Regions from separate parts of the Homo sapiens genome. Here region 1 is linked to region 2. The links come from fine-mapping of genetic effects on gene expression. A gene starts in region 2. The other region holds a variant in brackets. All regions are shown on one strand. Distances are between the middles of the regions.

What was found.
Region 1: its variant is fine-mapped to the expression of EBPL in whole blood (INTERVAL, PIP 0.90).

What each region holds. Positions count from the first base shown.
Region 1 is chr13:49,716,384-49,721,764 of GRCh38, forward strand. KPNA3 (karyopherin subunit alpha 3) reads right to left here. Exons shown (of 17, transcript NM_002267.4): 10 at 3,392-3,436. Among named protein-coding and RNA genes, the nearest start is that of EBPL, 28 kb to the left of the region's middle. The variant ATCTC/A (reference allele first, on the strand shown) is at 2,994.
Region 2 is chr13:49,688,136-49,693,516 of GRCh38, forward strand. It overlaps EBPL (EBP like), which reads right to left and starts at 3,351. Exons shown (of 4, transcript NM_032565.5): 1 at 3,119-3,351. The coding sequence starts at 3,289. RefSeq lists an enhancer at 2,646-3,643 and silencers at 3,107-3,246, 3,277-3,476.

The DNA.
Region 1 (5,381 bases), 28 kb after region 2:
TATTTTTTCCCCACTATTTGTTCCACATTTTATGCTTCTATCACACTTTAATTTTATTTAATTATTTTTTTTTAACACAGCATCTCGCTCTGTTGCCCACGTGGGAGTGCAGTGGCGTGATCTCGGTTCATTGCAACCTCCACCTCCCCGACTCAAGCGATTCTCCTGCCCCAGCCTCCCAAGTAGCTGGGATTACAGGCACGCATCATGATGCCCAGCTAATTTTTGTATTTTTAGTAGAGACGGGGTTTTGCTATGTTGGCCAGGCTGGTCTCAACTCCTGACCTCAAGTGATCCACTGTCCTCAGCCTTCCAAAGTGCTAGGATTACAAATATGAGCCACCGTGCCCAGCCATCATCATACTACTTTTAAAAACTCCTTTGTTGGTTCTTCTTCCCTTGCTGCCATTCCTGAAACGCCAGGAATTCCTAAGTTACATTTTTAGCCCTCCTTCCGAAATACAGCCTCCTCCAGGTGATCTCATTCAATGCCCAGGTTTTCATCAATCCCTTAAATACTGACGAATCCAAAATCTGTATTGTCTTTTGCTTTTGGAAAATACCGCCACTGAGGAACAACAAGTTCCAAGTTCTACTCACTTTATTTCCTAACACTCAAAGTTTTTTCTCCCTTAACGATTCCTATTATTGCAATTTAGTAATAGTCCATGCCTTCATCAACTTCCCTAAACCTATTATGATAGCAAAATACATCTACCTACAGTCAAACTTTCCCTACTTCAAACCTTCCATATTTGTGTTATTTGTCTGTTACAGATAATTTTATCTGTATAAAACAAATATCATTTCTCGATTTAAAAAATCTACAATGACTCTGCAGTCATTACAAGATAAACTTAAAACTCTTTAATATAGAATCAAAAACTCATATAAAAAATTAGCAGGGAGTGGTGGCATGCACTGTAATCCCAGCTACTGGAGAGGCTGAGGCAGGAGAATTCCTTCAACTCGGGAGGCGGAGGTTGCAGTGAGCCTAGATCGCGCCACTGCACTCCAGCCTGGGTGACAGAGCAAGACTCCATCTCGGAAAAAAAAGAAAAAAAAAAAAAAAAGAATCAAAGACTCTGCAAATTAACTCCTTAGCGAACGTATTAGGTTATTATCTACATGTATTCTCTTAAACCTCCATGTATTCTTGAGTTCTTAATATCTTCCCCCGTGTTCTTGAAATGACTTTCTCTCAACCTGTGAAAATCCTATTCATCCTAGTTATATGACATGAGACAAATTACTTAAGTACCTCTGCTTCTTTTACAACGTTTGTAGATGATGGAGATAATGAGAGTACCAATCTCACAAGAATTTTGTAAGAATTAAATGGGTTAACATAGCAAAAGTGCTTAAAACAGTGCCTGGCAGATTTTAAACTCAATAAATGGTAACTATGAACACTATAATCTTTGACTCTGTCCCCACTTCTGTCTCCTTATAATGCTCGTCTCAAATGTTACTTTGTCAACGAAGCTTTCTGCTTCGCTAGCAAAATTATCTGTGCTTCCATAATAAAGCACTTTGGTCACTGCTCTATCTTACCTTTTTTCTTGTTGGCTTTCATACCATGTTTTATGTTTATGTGCTTATGGTATGATTTTTTTTTTCACTGTGAGCCTATGGATTATACTGAATATGTGATCATGGTATGAAAAAGCACAGGCCTTGGACCTGGCTTCAGTTCTCAGGTATGGCTCTCATTCATTGCATGACCTTAGAAAGATTATTTAACTTTACCGAGTTTCAATCTCTGTATTTGTAAAATAGAAGAATAAAACTTATCTTACAAGGATACTGGTAAGATAAAAGGAGTCTACAGAGAGATCCAGCACAGCAATTTCTTGACATAAGTTCTTTCCTTTTAACTCTTTTTACATCTTTAATGTTAAGGTCTTAGAAGGCATGGTCTCTTTATGTCTTATCACTGAGTGTACAATTCATGGCACAATTCTGGCTTTAAGTGGAATAATTTGTGAGTGTTTGCTAAACTTGACTAATATACCTGTAACTACAGTACACTGCCACTTTAATACCCCAGCTTTCACATAAACACAACCAACAGATGGTGAAAGCTTTTATTTGCCTATAATTAATTCTATAATGTTCTGGGGGAAAGTCCTGAGGCAAACAGCAGATATTTTGCTTATTCCCCTTTTAATCTTTGCTGTCAGAAAGCTTACAACTAAACTTACCTTTCAACAGCAACAACTAAACTTCTGTATAAATTTTACTTTTTCCTTTACAGATATTATCTTATATGTCTTTTGTTAAGTCACTTTATATCCATTTTGGAAATAAGACGGCATATAAACATGTTTTACTTCATTTTAATGACATTTTAGGCTGTGTCAAACACGAAGTGACTTTAGCTACCTTTAAAAGATTCCATCCTGAGAGCTTAAAATCTGCAAATGAGCTAGAGTAATGTGATACAATTTTTATATACAAATTATATTGCCTTGTGAGAAAGGTAAGCAAAGATGTATTTCTTTGTCCCAATGATAAATTACACACAATTCACAATTCTGCCACACATATACACATATGTATGTACATGTTATGTGTATGTAGATAAAGATTACAAAAACACAAATATACAACAAATCAGAAAGAGATGTTAGTTAGAATAAAAGAAACTGGATCAACACTAGTCACCGAAATTTATCCACTGTTTTACTCCATGGAAAAGTAACAATTTACCTTACTGCATTTAGGAGAATTTTCAGATTGCCTAGATAGTATCAAACTTGCCAGAACGTTGACAGTAAATGCTTCACTAAATCTGAATATAATGAAAAAAAATCACCTAAAAATGCCTTGCATTTAAAACTATATATTCTTCTATACTATATCTAAAAAGACTGTAGCATAAAAAGGCAGCATGGTTTTGTGACAAGTACCCAAGACCTGTTATGAGAAGACTTTAATTTGAATATTGACTCTGACCCTTACTAGCTCTTCCACTTTAGATAAGTCATTTA[ATCTC/A]TCTCTGAGAGTCCGTTTCTTCTTATTCTATAAAATGGGGGGAATAATATCTAGCCTATCTGTTGTAAGAACCAGTGAGATTTTTTTTAAAAAGTAAGGTGTTTCATGAGGTTTTACCGCTTTACAAATATTAAGGTTTAAAAACACTACTTAATAATGACAGAAATAAACTACATATGCAGTAATTTCTCAAAAGTGAGCATTTTTGCTGTCTGGCTGTTACTGCTTACAGATTTAAGCTATAAACCTAATTTAAGCTTAATCCTATTTCTGAAAACTGTAAATACGTTGTAGAAACTTGACAAGTTGATAAAATGTATGCTGACACTTACATAAAAACCCTTTCTGTCCCATCAAGAGCAAAATCCCACATTTAAGCTGCTTCTTAACTTACGTTTATATCTGTATGGTATATGAGGACACATAAAGCTGGCAAAATCTGAGGAAAGAAAATAAACAATACTTAACATTAGTTAATTAATATGTCTGTAAAAATGAACAACTTTGACATAAAAAGCGGTAAATATGGTTTGTAGGGCGAGAAAGACAATGTTAAATTTGTCTGAATATCTTTTAGGAAAATGAAAACCTGATAAATTCAATCTAAAAAAACCAAAAACATATCTCAAATGTTAAACTGAAATATGTTCAATTAACAAGTTAAAATATCCAAATAAATCTGGCAGAAGTTAATGTACCTTAAAATAAAAACATTTGTTTTTAATAACCTTCTTTATGGCATAAAATGTCAAGTGGAAAAAATGGAGATGCAAATATACAGTTACAGCTATTTAAGAAAAGCTACACTTAAAACTGCCGTAATTGTCTCACTTACCTGCTTAACGTAAAAATACGATTTTACTTAATAAGCTACTTAAGTCAAATTAAAGTTTTCAACTTCACCTTTAGTCAAGAAAATTCGAACCAGTACAAAGTACAAAGCTTTGCTTGTTAAATTCAGGCCCCAGAGATCTCTTTTTAAAATATGGGAGAAAGGGAGCAGGGGGTTGTAGGAAATCACACAAAATACCTTTGCATAGCAACAAAAAGTAGCAGGTACTAGAGAAAGATGTCCATTATAAAGATACACAGTTGGCCAAGTGTGGTGGCTCATGCTTGTAATCCCACCACTTTGGGAGGGTGAGGTGGGTGGACTGCTTGATGCCAGGAGTTCAAGACCAGCTGGCCAACATGGTGAAAACCCATTTCTACTAAAAATACAAAAATTAGCCTGGCATGGTGGCACATGCCTGAGACATGAGAATCGCTTGAACCCCGGATGTGGAGGCTGCAGTGGGCAAAGATTGTGCCACTGCACTCCAGCCTGGGAAACAGAGCGAGACTGTCTCAAAAAAAAAAAAAAAAAAAAGAGATAACACAGTCAACAGTGAATAAAGGTTATGTAGGATTTTTTTTTAAAATGCAAAGCACAAGGATCTATTTACATATCAAATGTAAATAAAAAAGTTTTTACTTTGTTTTAATTAGTAGATTTAACAAAAAATATGTCACACTTTTAAGAACTCCAATTTTGTCAGTAATAAATTGGAGTTAGGCCGTGGGGGCAGTGGCTCACACCTGTAATCCCAGCACTTTGGGATACTGAGGTGAGCAGATCACTTCAGGTCAGGAGTTTGAGACCAGCCTGGCCTACACAGTGAAACCCCATCTCTACTAAAAATACAAAAACTAGCCGGGTGTGGTGGCGCTGGCCTGTAATCCCAGCTACTCAGGAGGCTGAGGCACGAGACTCGCTTGAACCCAGGAGGCAGAGGCTGCAGTGAGCTGAGATCATGCCACTGCACTCCAGCCTGGGCAATAGAACAAGACTGTCTCAAAAGAAGAAGAAGAAGAAAAAAAATCAATTGGACTTAAAGCAAACTCATTCAAGAACATTTGCATGTAAGTATACTAGTTTTGCCTGTAGCAACCCCCTTTTATAGCTTTAAACCAACAATGCAATACAGTAATAAAACTTTGAGATTGTTTTCCTTTTGTATTTTTCTCTCTGAATTTTTATATTTTCTTTTTATGCAGATAATCAAAAAAATAGGCATTAGGATGAACTGACATTCTTTCAGGTACAGTAAGACACTCAACTTTTATTTCATAGGAGTAATTAAATATGGTACGTTACTTTTAAAATCTTACACCTGTGGCTGGGCGTGGTGGCTCAGGCCTGTCATCCCAGCACTTTGGGAGGCCGAGGCGGGCAGATCACGAGGTCAGGAGGTCGAGACCATCCTGGCTAACATGGTGAAACCCCGTCTGTACTAAAAATACAAAAAAATTAGCCAGGCGTGGTGGCGGGTGCCTGTAGTCCCAGCTACTCAGGAGGCTGAGGCAGGAGAATGGCGTGAACCCAGGAAGTGGAGCTTGCCGTG
Region 2 (5,381 bases):
CCAGTGCCTAGGCTGCCCACAGCGACCTCAGAATGGTGACCCCACCATTTCCTTCTTCTAGTATGTTGCCATGGCTCCTTCCAGGTAGGCTGATGGGAAGTCAGCCTGCCCTCTGCTGTAGTCATAACGAGCTGAACTGATGACCAGTGCTGGGGCCCAAGGTGACTGCACTCTGGTTGGACATCTGGGAAATGAACTGCCCCTGGGAATGCTTGGCTTGAAACTGTCCAACAGGATAGCTTTCAATTTGATGGCAGCCAAAAAACCTACAGAGCTCCTCTCTTTAAGAAGTGTCAGGGGGTGGCCAGGCGCAGTGGCTCACGCCTGTAATCCCAGCACTTTGGAAGGCCGAGGCAGGTAGATCACGAGGTCAGGAGATCGAGACCATCCTGGCTAATATGGTGAAACCCCGTCTCTACAAAAAATACAAAAAATTAGCCGGGCGTGGTGGCGGGTGCCTGTAGTCCCAGCTACTCAGGAGGCTGAGGCAGGAGAATGGCGTGAACCCGAGAGGCGGAGCTTGCAGCGAGCCGAGATTGCGCCACTGCACTCCAGTCTGGGTAATAGAGCGAGACTCCGTCTCAAAAAAAAAAAAAAAAAAAAAGAAGTGTCGGGTTAAGGAGAGGCAACTCATCTTCTAGTGAACAAGTGAGTTTTAATTTTGGTTCTCCCCTAAGCTCTACATCTTAGTCTTAGCTTGTCCCACACTTCTGGGTATTCTTGCAATAAACTCCCAAGCAAAGACAACATGGGCATGTATTTTCTTGCAGCCTCAACTGCTTAATTCAAGTGCTCTCCCCACTGATCTCTGAGACACATGTACAAAGACGTTGGTAGATGCATTGTTTGTAATGACAGAAAAATGTGTCCACTAATATGGGCTGGTTAAGTGATCGTATTCATCAAATATAAGATACATCCCAATTTAGAGACATTAAAATATCAATCAAATGGCCTACAGTAGTTACATGATGTAGTTGATTCTTCTAATATGTGAAAAAATGTGGGTCTTAGACTTGGAGAACTAAGGTATGGTGTATTCACACAGTGGACTACTTTGCAGCTGGGGTAGGTAATGGCACAAAAGGAGGTGTGTGTCGTGTTACCTGTAACAACCTGAGCTTGAAAAGTAAACAGTCTTAAACCAAGTGGTGAACACACGCATATAGTTTAAGTATTTTTACAGCTTTTTGTTTGTCTAAGGTATGTTAAACATTTTTCTTTTTTTTCCCAAGATAGAGTCTTGCTCTGTTGCCCAGGCTGGAGTGCAGTGGCTTGATCATGGCTCACTACAACCTCCACCTTCCAGGTTCAAGCAATTCTCCTGCCTCAGCCACCCGGGTAGCTGAGATTATGGGCACCGTCACCACACCTGGCTAATTTTTGTATATTTAGTACAGACGGGGTTTCACCATGTTGGCCAGGCTGGTCTTGAACTCCTGACCTCGTGATCCACCCGCCTCAGCCTCCCAAAATGCTGGGATTACAGGCATGAGCCACTGTGTCCGATATGTTATACATTTTTATATATATACATTCTGATATGCTATATACAGTTATACCCAGCCAATATGTTACACAGTTTTCTCTCACTGGGCCTAGCAACATTTTTGTTATGTTATACATTTTGTTATACATTTTTTCTAACCGGGCCTAGCAATCTGCTTTATCTCCCTTGTTCTGTGGGAAACCTTGTGTTCAAGTGATAGCTTAAAAATCAATTCTCGGCTGGTGGCGGTGGCGGTGGCTCACGCCTGTCATCCCAGCACTTTGGGAGGCCAAGGTGGGCAGATCATCTGATGTTAGGGGTTTGAGACCAGTCTGGCCAACATAGTGAAACCTCATCTCTACTAAAAACACAAAAATTAGCTGGGCGTGGTGACGGGCGCCCGTAATCCCAGCTACTCGGGAGGCTGAGGCAGGAGAATAGCTTTAACCCAAGGGGCGGAGGTTGCAGTGAGCCGAGATAGTGCCACTACACTCCAGCCTGGGCAACAGTGTTAGACTCTGTCTCAAGAACAACAACAAAAAAAAAGACAAAAAAAAAAAAAAAGAATTCTATAAATAAAGGAGTTGAGAGAAACATTCACTGTCCCTTATCTCTACATGTTGATTATCAGAATAAAAAGAATTCCAGCAACATCAGTCATGGGCACAAAGCCAACCCGTAAACATTTACAGAACTCGATGATTACCCAAAACTCGGCTTGCTTTCTCAATACTACTGACTTTGGCTTCACATTAGCCACAGGTGTGTCTAGAGTTAAACAAGGTCAACTTTACAAAAAAAAAAAAAAACAAACTGATACTTGGGCATAGTTTAAAAAAAACTTAAAAGTGTGTGTGTGTGTGTGCGTGCGCGTGTGTGGTGGGGGGCGGGGCATTTCAATATAAATGCCTTAAACACAACCTTCCTGGCTATTTTATAAAATGGGTTGAATCTCTAAGGACACATATTTCCTAAGACCTCGACTGATACACAGAGTGCAAACTTGGGAGCCAGACTAGACTGCCTCAGAATCATGCCAGCTGTGTGGCACTGGAAAGTCACCTAATTTTGCAGCGCCTACCTTCACCTCTGTAAAATGGGGAACAATAATAACTAATTTATGGATGCTGTAAAGATCTGAAATTTTAAACTCAGTAATGCGCCTGGCACACATTAGACACGGGTGTTTCGTTTGTCTTGGCAAAGGCTTCGGGTTTTGCGACAATAGCCTTGCTGCCTCCGGAGCAAGCATCTCTCCTTGCCCCCTCTGGGGCATTTAAAAATGACCTCAATTCTACTCTCAATTATGTCCAGTTCAACAGTTACGTGCAGGTTACAAAGCCGAGGAAGCTGAGGTATCTTCTAAACTAACATAGCACGTACAGAATTTTTTTAAAGTTTGGTGGAGGAATCGGCAGCACAAGGTAAGCTGCGCTCTGTTCACAGACCTGGGAATCAGAACTCCGGCCGCCGCGGCCTCCAGGCGCCTCTCAGCTAACAGACTTCCTGCAGCAGGGGGAGGGGCGGCCAGCTCGCTGCAAAAAGCCGCAGGACCCCCTCACCCCGCCTTGCCGCCCCCGCTCCCACTCTCTGGGATGGGGAGTGCAGGGTCTAGGCGATGGCACTTACCAGCGCGAAGTGCACCAGCGCGTCGTAGCAGAGCCAGATGAGCGCCCCGCGGTCCGCCGCCCCCTGCCCGCGGCCCAGGCGCAGGCCCAGGGCGCAGCCCGCCGCCAGCAGCGCGGCGCACAGCAGCAGCGAACCGCCAGCCTCGGCCCCCAGCTCCCACTCAGCGCCCATGCTTCAGGCTTCCGACGCCAACGGCCCAGGACCATGCGGCAGAGGAAAGCAGGGAGAGAAACGACGGGGCGGGGCTGGCCGGGAAGGGGCGGAGCCGGATGGCCAAGGAGGAGCGGAGCTGATTGGCCAAGGCGGTCCGGGGAGGGACGGGGCTCCCCGGCCGGGTCGGGGCCAGAGCGAGGATTCCGTGCCCGCCTCGCACCCTGGCCAGCCTGCTGAGTCCGGTGGTTTTGCCAGGTGCCGCCCATGGAGGTTCCGTAGAAGGAACGTGCTCACCAACTTGCGCAACCGCCTCGACCAAACCTGTTCCCAAACCGAGCCCAAAGGATTGGTAATAGGGCCACACCTTTTGATGTTGTTTCGCTTTTAACAAGGCTCAAACTTTAAGCCACAAAGTGAAGCCTAGGTAGTGGAAATTTTGCCAGTAGACCGGGGCAGAATTTTAGGGGCAAAAGGTTTTAATTAGGCTGCAGCAAGCCTTACCAGGGAGGCTGGGGGCCAAGGGAGTTTTCAGCCACCAGCCGGCTTAAAGCCTTTATGGCCTACTCTGACAATCTTTCCATTTCTTAAAAATCCAGAAAAGTAGAAGGGTGGGTGAGAGGAGCGGTAAGTCCTATTGGCTTGGCGATAGATGCGTTTAACCTGTGGCAGGCCAGGTTTCACTATCGCAGGCCTCCATCACAACTGCTTCAGCACTGAGTGGTTAAATTAAATATTAAAAGCTGAGGCCGGGCGCGGTGGCTCACGCCTGTAATCCCAGCACTTTTTGCCAAGGCGGGCGGATCACGAGGTCAGGAAATCGAGACCATCCTGGCTAACACGGCGAAACCACGTCTCTACTAAAAATACAAAAAATTAGCCGGGCGTGGTGACGGGCGCCTGTAGTCCCAGCTACTCCGGAGGCTGAGGCAGGAGAATGGCGTGAACCCGGGAGGCGGAGCTTGCAGTGAGCCGAGATCGCGCCACTGCACTCCAGCCTGGGCAACAGAGCGAGACTCCGTCTCAAAAAACAAAAAAAAAATTAAAAGCTGAAAGAGTCAGTGCCCATATACCAAAGTCTGGAATGTAACAAAAGCCCACCAAGAGTTTTGCCTAGGCCTTTCTTGGGCCTTGAAGCATGACAAGATAACTAAGGAATTTTTAACAGGACCCGTTTAGGATTAAACAAGTTTTATTGGGGGTCTGAAGAAACTCCCCAGGCCTCCAAAAACAAGTTTATTGGGAGTCTGGAGGAATTCCACAAGCCTCCATGATTTAGCAAGAGACAAAATAAGGGTAATCATCCCAGCACCCAGACCTATTTAGATTAAGTAAATTTACTGAGGCTCCAGAGGAAGGTCTTCAGGATTAGAAGTTGTTAATCACTTACGTCTTTAGATGAATGCACTCTTACACGTAGACATATAGCTTAGAAGGTATATACGCTCTGGAAAAACTTTGTAATTATGAGTTGGTCTGGCAATAATTTCCAGACCTTCTCCCTGTAACCGGTTGCAGAAATAAAAACTCTTCTTCCCCAGTTCATCTGCACCTCATTATTGGGCTGCCCAACCCCCAGTTTGGTCCGGGAACAAACCTACATTATTTAACATCACAACAACCCTATGAGGTCGGTGAAATAAGCCAGTCACAAAAACATACTTATGATTCCACTTACAGGAAATATCTAAAATAATCAATTTGCAGAAACAAAATAGAATGATGGTTACCAGGGGTGGGGCGGGGCGGGAGTGGGGGGGGGGCGCGGGGAAAAGTGGAGTGTTATTTATTCGGATAGTTTGATTTGCAAGATGATGTTCTGGAGATTGGTTGCACAACAACGTGAACATACTTTACTGAGCTGCACACTTAAAAATGGTTAAGATGGCAAATTTTATGTGTATTTTACAGTTATTAAAAAAAATGCTGGCACTGAACACAAGAAATTTTTCCCTTAGTCACTTCCTATACCATTTTTTATAGCAGTTAACACCAGATAGAATGATCCTTGTTTACACACTTATTGCTAATCTCCTGCCACTATAATGTAAGTCTTCAAGGCCAGGGGTTGTGGCTAGCTTTTTTATTGCTGTATCCCTGGCACCTATTACAG